Homo sapiens: one gene and its partner. The protein of the gene in region 1 interacts with the protein of each later gene in a biochemical or structural test. Each region holds a gene or a part of one and is shown on either strand. Other genes may lie near its edges.

Region 1 (3,500 bases):
GGATGGCCAGCTTGCAAGCACGCTGGCAAATCTCTGTCAGGTCAGCTCCAGAGAAGCCATTAGTCATTTTAGCCAGGAACTCCAAGTCCACATCCTAAAAGCAGCAGCAGAGGTACCTTAGCATTTAGCCTCTCCTCTCGAGATACGCAGATCTTTGGGCTACCCGAGCACTCCCAACTACAGTTTGCCCCTTCTTTGGCCACCCCATTTTATTCCTGATTCTAGATTATCTTGATATCCTCAAAAATTCTACCTTCCCTTTAGACCAACCCTAACCCCAGTGGAATCTTGTCCAGAAACTAAAGAGCACTCCGTACCAGCCTGAGGACTCATGCAAGTCTCCCACAGCCCATGATCTTGCACCTGCCTTGGCAACTGGGGACTTGCGCAGGTTAGCCTTGAGGATGGCAACACGGGACTTCTCATCAGGAAGTGGGATGTAGATGAGCTGATCAAGACGGCCAGGTCTGAGGATGGCAGGATCAATGATGTCAGGCCGGTTGGTAGCGCCAATGATGAACACATTTTTTTTTGTGGACATGCCATCCATTTCTGTCAGGATCTGGTTGATGACTCGGTCAGCAGCCCCACCACCATCTCCAATGTTACCTCCACGAGCCTTGGCAATCGAATCCAGCTCATCAAAGAATAGCACACAGGGGGCAGCTTGGCGGGCCTGTAGGAGGAATGGATTGATTCAAGCACTAACAAAACTAGATGTCTCTAGGCAAACGTGGTGGCTCACACCTGTATTCCCAGCACTTTGGGAGGCCAAGGTGGGAGGATCACTTGAGGCCAGAAATCCGAAACCAGCATGGGCAACATACTGAGACTTTGTCTCTACAAAAAATAAAAAATTAGCCAGATGTGGTGACGCATGCCTATAGTCCCAGCTACTCAGGAGGCTGAAGTAGGAGAATTGCTTAAGCCCAGGTTTCAAGGTTACAGTGAGCCATGACTGTACCACTGCCCTCCAACCTGGGCAACAGAGCCAGACCCTGTCTCAAGAGAGAGAGAGAGAAAAAAAAAATAACACTAGGTCTCTCAGACCTCAGAAAGAAAATCAAGTGACTTACTGTGCAGTTGAGCAGCCAGCACTAAGAATATTTCAACCCTCTTAAAGAAAAACAGCCTCTATTCCTTGCCCTCAGGCAAATCAATACATAGTTCAGCCTATTGTAGCTCACCTTGTCAAAGATTTCTCTGACATTGGCCTCAGACTCCCCAAACCACATGGTGAGCAGCTCAGGACCCTTGATGGAGATGAAGTTGGCCTGGCATTCATTAGCAATGGCTTTGGCCAACAAAGTTTTCCCACAGCCAGGAGGTCCATAGAACAGAACTCCCTTGGAAGGTGTCATGCCAAACTTCAGGAATTTGTCTGGGTGCTCCACAGGATACTAGGAGGAAAAGGAAAGAGGGTTCAAGGCTACCTCCACATTTTGAAAGAAACCTAACTAAACAGAAGCATCCCCTCCATTATTTCATGGTGTACCCAATGGTATCAGATCCAGGTTCTCTAGAAGAAGACTCCTTAGTGCCTCAAACCTAAGAACAGTAGGTTCCTAAGTCGTGCTCTCACAACTCTTGCAGCAAATGTGTTGACACCCTGAGATCACCCAGATCAATTACAATGTACTGAGACAGTGACTCACCCTGGACCAAGTTGCCCTACCTGGACCAGCTCCTGTAGCTCACGTTTGACATCCTCTAGGCCCCCGATGTCTTCCCAGGTTACCTGTGGCACCTCTACCACGGTTTCCCGCAGTGCTGATGGGTTACTCTGGCTCAAGGCCCACTAGAAAAGGAGGGAAAACTGGGGATGAGACTTATCAAGGGAGGGGTCAAAGCACGTATGTGTGTACCTGAGGCACGGGTGTGGTCCTTACCCGGAAGTCATCCATAGTAACTGCTAGAGAGTTCATGACCTCGGCATCAATGGTCTCATCCTCTAGGTCAATGAGATCCATCTTCTTGCGGATGGCTTGCAGAGCAGCCTCTGAGCACAGGGCTGCTAAGTCAGCACCCACATGCCCGTGAGTCTCATTGGCTACCTGCAGAGAAAGATCTACTTACTATGCTGCCTCAAAGACCCAGCTGCTGCAGGAGGCTCAGAGACAATAGAATCCTTCCCCTGACTGCTATCCCTGGGTCCTCTCATTTCCTTGAATATATACTATCAATACCTTTATGGGCTGGGTTTTAAGTACTTAATTCTGGACTTGGGACCTAGAAATAAGGCTGCTCCAACAATTCTGATTTACTCTAAATGCAGCGTCAACTATGAAAAATGCCAACTCCCATTTCCTGGATTCAATCTCAGATTACTTCCTTTCCCCTGTCCAGAAATCAAAACCCATCTCCTCACATCTTAACCTTATGTCTCTAGCCAGTTCCCAGCAACTGCCTAGAGACACTGTAACGCCTGGTCAGCCATCATCATCACTTCACCTGTTCCAGGTCCACATCATCTGCCAGCTTCATGTTCTTGGTATGGATCTGAAGAATCTCTAAGCGTCCTGTAGCATCAGGAATTCCAATATCTACCTCCCTGTCAAAGCGACCTGTGGGACAGTACACAAACATAAACAGGGCTCATCTCTAGTCCAGAGGTAAGAGACAGGCCTAGGGTGACCAACCATCTCAGCCAGCACAGGATTGTCCTAATGCCAGCACTAAAAAAGTCTCAAGCTCTGGGAAACCTTTCAGTCTCAGGAAAACCAGGGTGGTTGGTCACTCTAGACAGGACGTAGGGTAAAGGAAAAAGACCCCTGGACCCAATCACTGTGAAGGGCTTCAAGAGGATTAGGTGACTTAGATGAAGGAGAGAAGTAGGACCTAAGCAAGGACGGGGTCAAAAGTATCTGGAGTCCTTACCAAATCGCCGTAGAGCTGGGTCAATGCTGTTGGGTCTGTTGGTTGCTGCCATAACAATCACATGTGCCCTCTGCTTTAGGCCATCCATGAGGGTCAACAACTGTGATACAATGCGCCGCTCCACCTCGCCATGAGTCTGCCAGAACAGGATGTCTGGTCAGAAGTGAAGTCAGGGCCTTTCAACCCCCCTCTATCCCCTCAGGTAAGCTCCTACTTTCTCTCTTTTGGGAGCGATGGCATCTAGCTCATCAATGAAGATGATGGCAGGAGCATTCTTCTCAGCCTCCTCAAAGGCTTTACGAAGGTTGCTCTCAGACTCACCAGCCAATTTGCTCATGATCTCAGGACCTGAAAGGATACAGAATGGAGACAATAACAAAATGATAGTCTTTCCCAATTCCTCCCAAAAATCAGTTATCTTGCTTGTTTGGCCCAGAGACAGGTCCTGGGTGAGAAGGTGGTAACCTCTGCCTACTTCTCACATCCTCTACCAGCCATTATCCCAGGACAGCCACCAGGCAAGGCTGGAGAGAAGCCCAGGGACTCACTATACTCTTCTCACAGTTGAACTGTAAAGGTGACAGCAAATGCTCTAGGACCTCTGGCTAGAGCAAGAGAGATGG
Region 2 (2,889 bases), on another chromosome or scaffold:
TGGCTTGGTTTGGTCATGCCCGTCGATGTTTTGGGTATTGAATGTGGTAAGTGGAGGAAATGTTGGAACTCTGTGCAGGTGCTGCCTTGAGACCCCCAAGCTTCCACCTGTCCCTCTCCTATGTGGCAGCTGGGGAGCAGCTGAGATGTGGACTTGTATGCTGCCCACATACGTGAGGGGGAGCTGAAAGGGAGCCCCTCCTCTGAGCAGCCTCTGCCAGGCCTGTATGAGGCTTTTCCCACCAGCTCCCAACAGAGGCCTCCCCCAGCCAGGACCACCTCGTCCTCGTGGCGGGGCAGCAGGAGCGGTAGAAAGGGGTCCGATGTTTGAGGAGGCCCTTAAGGGAAGCTACTGAATTATAACACGTAAGAAAATCACCATTCCGTATTGGTTGGGGGCTCCTGTTTCTCATCCTAGCTTTTTCCTGGAAAGCCCGCTAGAAGGTTTGGGAACGAGGGGAAAGTTCTCAGAACTGTTGGCTGCTCCCCACCCGCCTCCCGCCTCCCCCGCAGGTTATGTCAGCAGCTCTGAGACAGCAGTATCACAGGCCAGATGTTGTTCCTGGCTAGATGTTTACATTTGTAAGAAATAACACTGTGAATGTAAAACAGAGCCATTCCCTTGGAATGCATATCGCTGGGCTCAACATAGAGTTTGTCTTCCTCTTGTTTACGACGTGATCTAAACCAGTCCTTAGCAAGGGGCTCAGAACACCCCGCTCTGGCAGTAGGTGTCCCCCACCCCCAAAGACCTGCCTGTGTGCTCCGGAGATGAATATGAGCTCATTAGTAAAAATGACTTCACCCACGCATATACATAAAGTATCCATGCATGTGCATATAGACACATCTATAATTTTACACACACACCTCTCAAGACGGAGATGCATGGCCTCTAAGAGTGCCCGTGTCGGTTCTTCCTGGAAGTTGACTTTCCTTAGACCCGCCAGGTCAAGTTAGCCGCGTGACGGACATCCAGGCGTGGGACGTGGTCAGGGCAGGGCTCATTCATTGCCCACTAGGATCCCACTGGCGAAGATGGTCTCCATATCAGCTCTCTGCAGAAGGGAGGAAGACTTTATCATGTTCCTAAAAATCTGTGGCAAGCACCCATCGTATTATCCAAATTTTGTTGCAAATGTGATTAATTTGGTTGTCAAGTTTTGGGGGTGGGCTGTGGGGAGATTGCTTTTGTTTTCCTGCTGGTAATATCGGGAAAGATTTTAATGAAACCAGGGTAGAATTGTTTGGCAATGCACTGAAGCGTGTTTCTTTCCCAAAATGTGCCTCCCTTCCGCTGCGGGCCCAGCTGAGTCTATGTAGGTGATGTTTCCAGCTGCCAAGTGCTCTTTGTTACTGTCCACCCTCATTTCTGCCAGCGCATGTGTCCTTTCAAGGGGAAAATGTGAAGCTGAACCCCCTCCAGACACCCAGAATGTAGCATCTGAGAAGGCCCTGTGCCCTAAAGGACACCCCTCGCCCCCATCTTCATGGAGGGGGTCATTTCAGAGCCCTCGGAGCCAATGAACAGCTCCTCCTCTTGGAGCTGAGATGAGCCCCACGTGGAGCTCGGGACGGATAGTAGACAGCAATAACTCGGTGTGTGGCCGCCTGGCAGGTGGAACTTCCTCCCGTTGCGGGGTGGAGTGAGGTTAGTTCTGTGTGTCTGGTGGGTGGAGTCAGGCTTCTCTTGCTACCTGTGAGCATCCTTCCCAGCAGACATCCTCATCGGGCTTTGTCCCTCCCCCGCTTCCTCCCTCTGCGGGGAGGACCCGGGACCACAGCTGCTGGCCAGGGTAGACTTGGAGCTGTCCTCCAGAGGGGTCACGTGTAGGAGTGAGAAGAAGGAAGATCTTGAGAGCTGCTGAGGGACCTTGGAGAGCTCAGGATGGCTCAGACGAGGACACTCGCTTGCCGGGCCTGGGCCTCCTGGGAAGGAGGGAGCTGCTCAGAATGCCGCATGACAACTGAAGGCAACCTGGAAGGTTCAGGGGCCGCTCTTCCCCCATGTGCCTGTCACGCTCTGGTGCAGTCAAAGGAACGCCTTCCCCTCAGTTGTTTCTAAGAGCAGAGTCTCCCGCTGCAATCTGGGTGGTAACTGCCAGCCTTGGAGGATCGTGGCCAACGTGGACCTGCCTACGGAGGGTGGGCTCTGACCCAAGTGGGGCCTCCTTGTCCAGGTCTCACTGCTTTGCACCGTGGTCAGAGGGACTGTCAGCTGAGCTTGAGCTCCCCTGGAGCCAGCAGGGCTGTGATGGGCGAGTCCCGGAGCCCCACCCAGACCTGAATGCTTCTGAGAGCAAAGGGAAGGACTGACGAGAGATGTATATTTAATTTTTTAACTGCTGCAAACATTGTACATCCAAATTAAAGGAAAAAAATGGAAACCATCAGTTGTTGCTGTGTGAGGCTTGCTTTGCTTCATGAGAACCTAGACCTTGCTGAGCTGGAGTCTTAGGAAGCAGTCTCCTAAGTGCTTCTCCAGCAGGGGCAGAAACTGTCCCACCAGCTAACATCTGGCATTATGGAGGGTCCCCCAGGCAGCTGCCAGCAGGGACAGGCCCCGTGTTTTCTGTAGCCAGGGATGAGGAAGTGGCCCCAGGGCATGGGCCTGGCTGGGTGCTTCTGCAAGGGCCTTCCCAAACCACAGTACAGGTGGTCTTCCTGCCCTGCAGATGGGAGCTGTGGGAGCTGCTGGAGCTGCTGGAGCCTTCATGGTCAAGTGACATCATAAGCTTATATGACATACACAAGCCTCAGGACTTGGCCCATGGCACTGAAGCAGGTCATCAGGCCCAGCACAGAGACTAGAGCTGTGTTCTCACAGGGCCCACCACCCTTCCACCTCCTTGGCCATTGACACCTGCGTCCCTGGCCCAGCTGCTCCCAG

Evidence for each region. The genes of interacting proteins can lie anywhere in the genome.
Region 2: the proteins of VCP (region 1) and HTT form a complex in vitro, tested with the Homo sapiens proteins (3 studies listed by BioGRID).

What each region holds. Positions count from the first base shown.
Region 1 is NC_000009.12:35,059,126-35,062,625, forward strand, and holds part of VCP (transitional endoplasmic reticulum ATPase), read right to left. Parts: intron 3,226-3,500; coding exon 3,092-3,225; intron 3,014-3,091; coding exon 2,878-3,013; intron 2,565-2,877; coding exon 2,452-2,564; intron 2,055-2,451; coding exon 1,890-2,054; intron 1,799-1,889; coding exon 1,676-1,798; intron 1,401-1,675; coding exon 1,188-1,400; intron 677-1,187; coding exon 368-676; intron 95-367; coding exon 1-94. UniProt on the Homo sapiens protein: Necessary for the fragmentation of Golgi stacks during mitosis and for their reassembly after mitosis. Involved in the formation of the transitional endoplasmic reticulum (tER).
Region 2 is NC_000004.12:3,241,569-3,244,457, forward strand, and holds the end of HTT (huntingtin), read left to right. Parts: 3' UTR 1-2,389; downstream 2,390-2,889.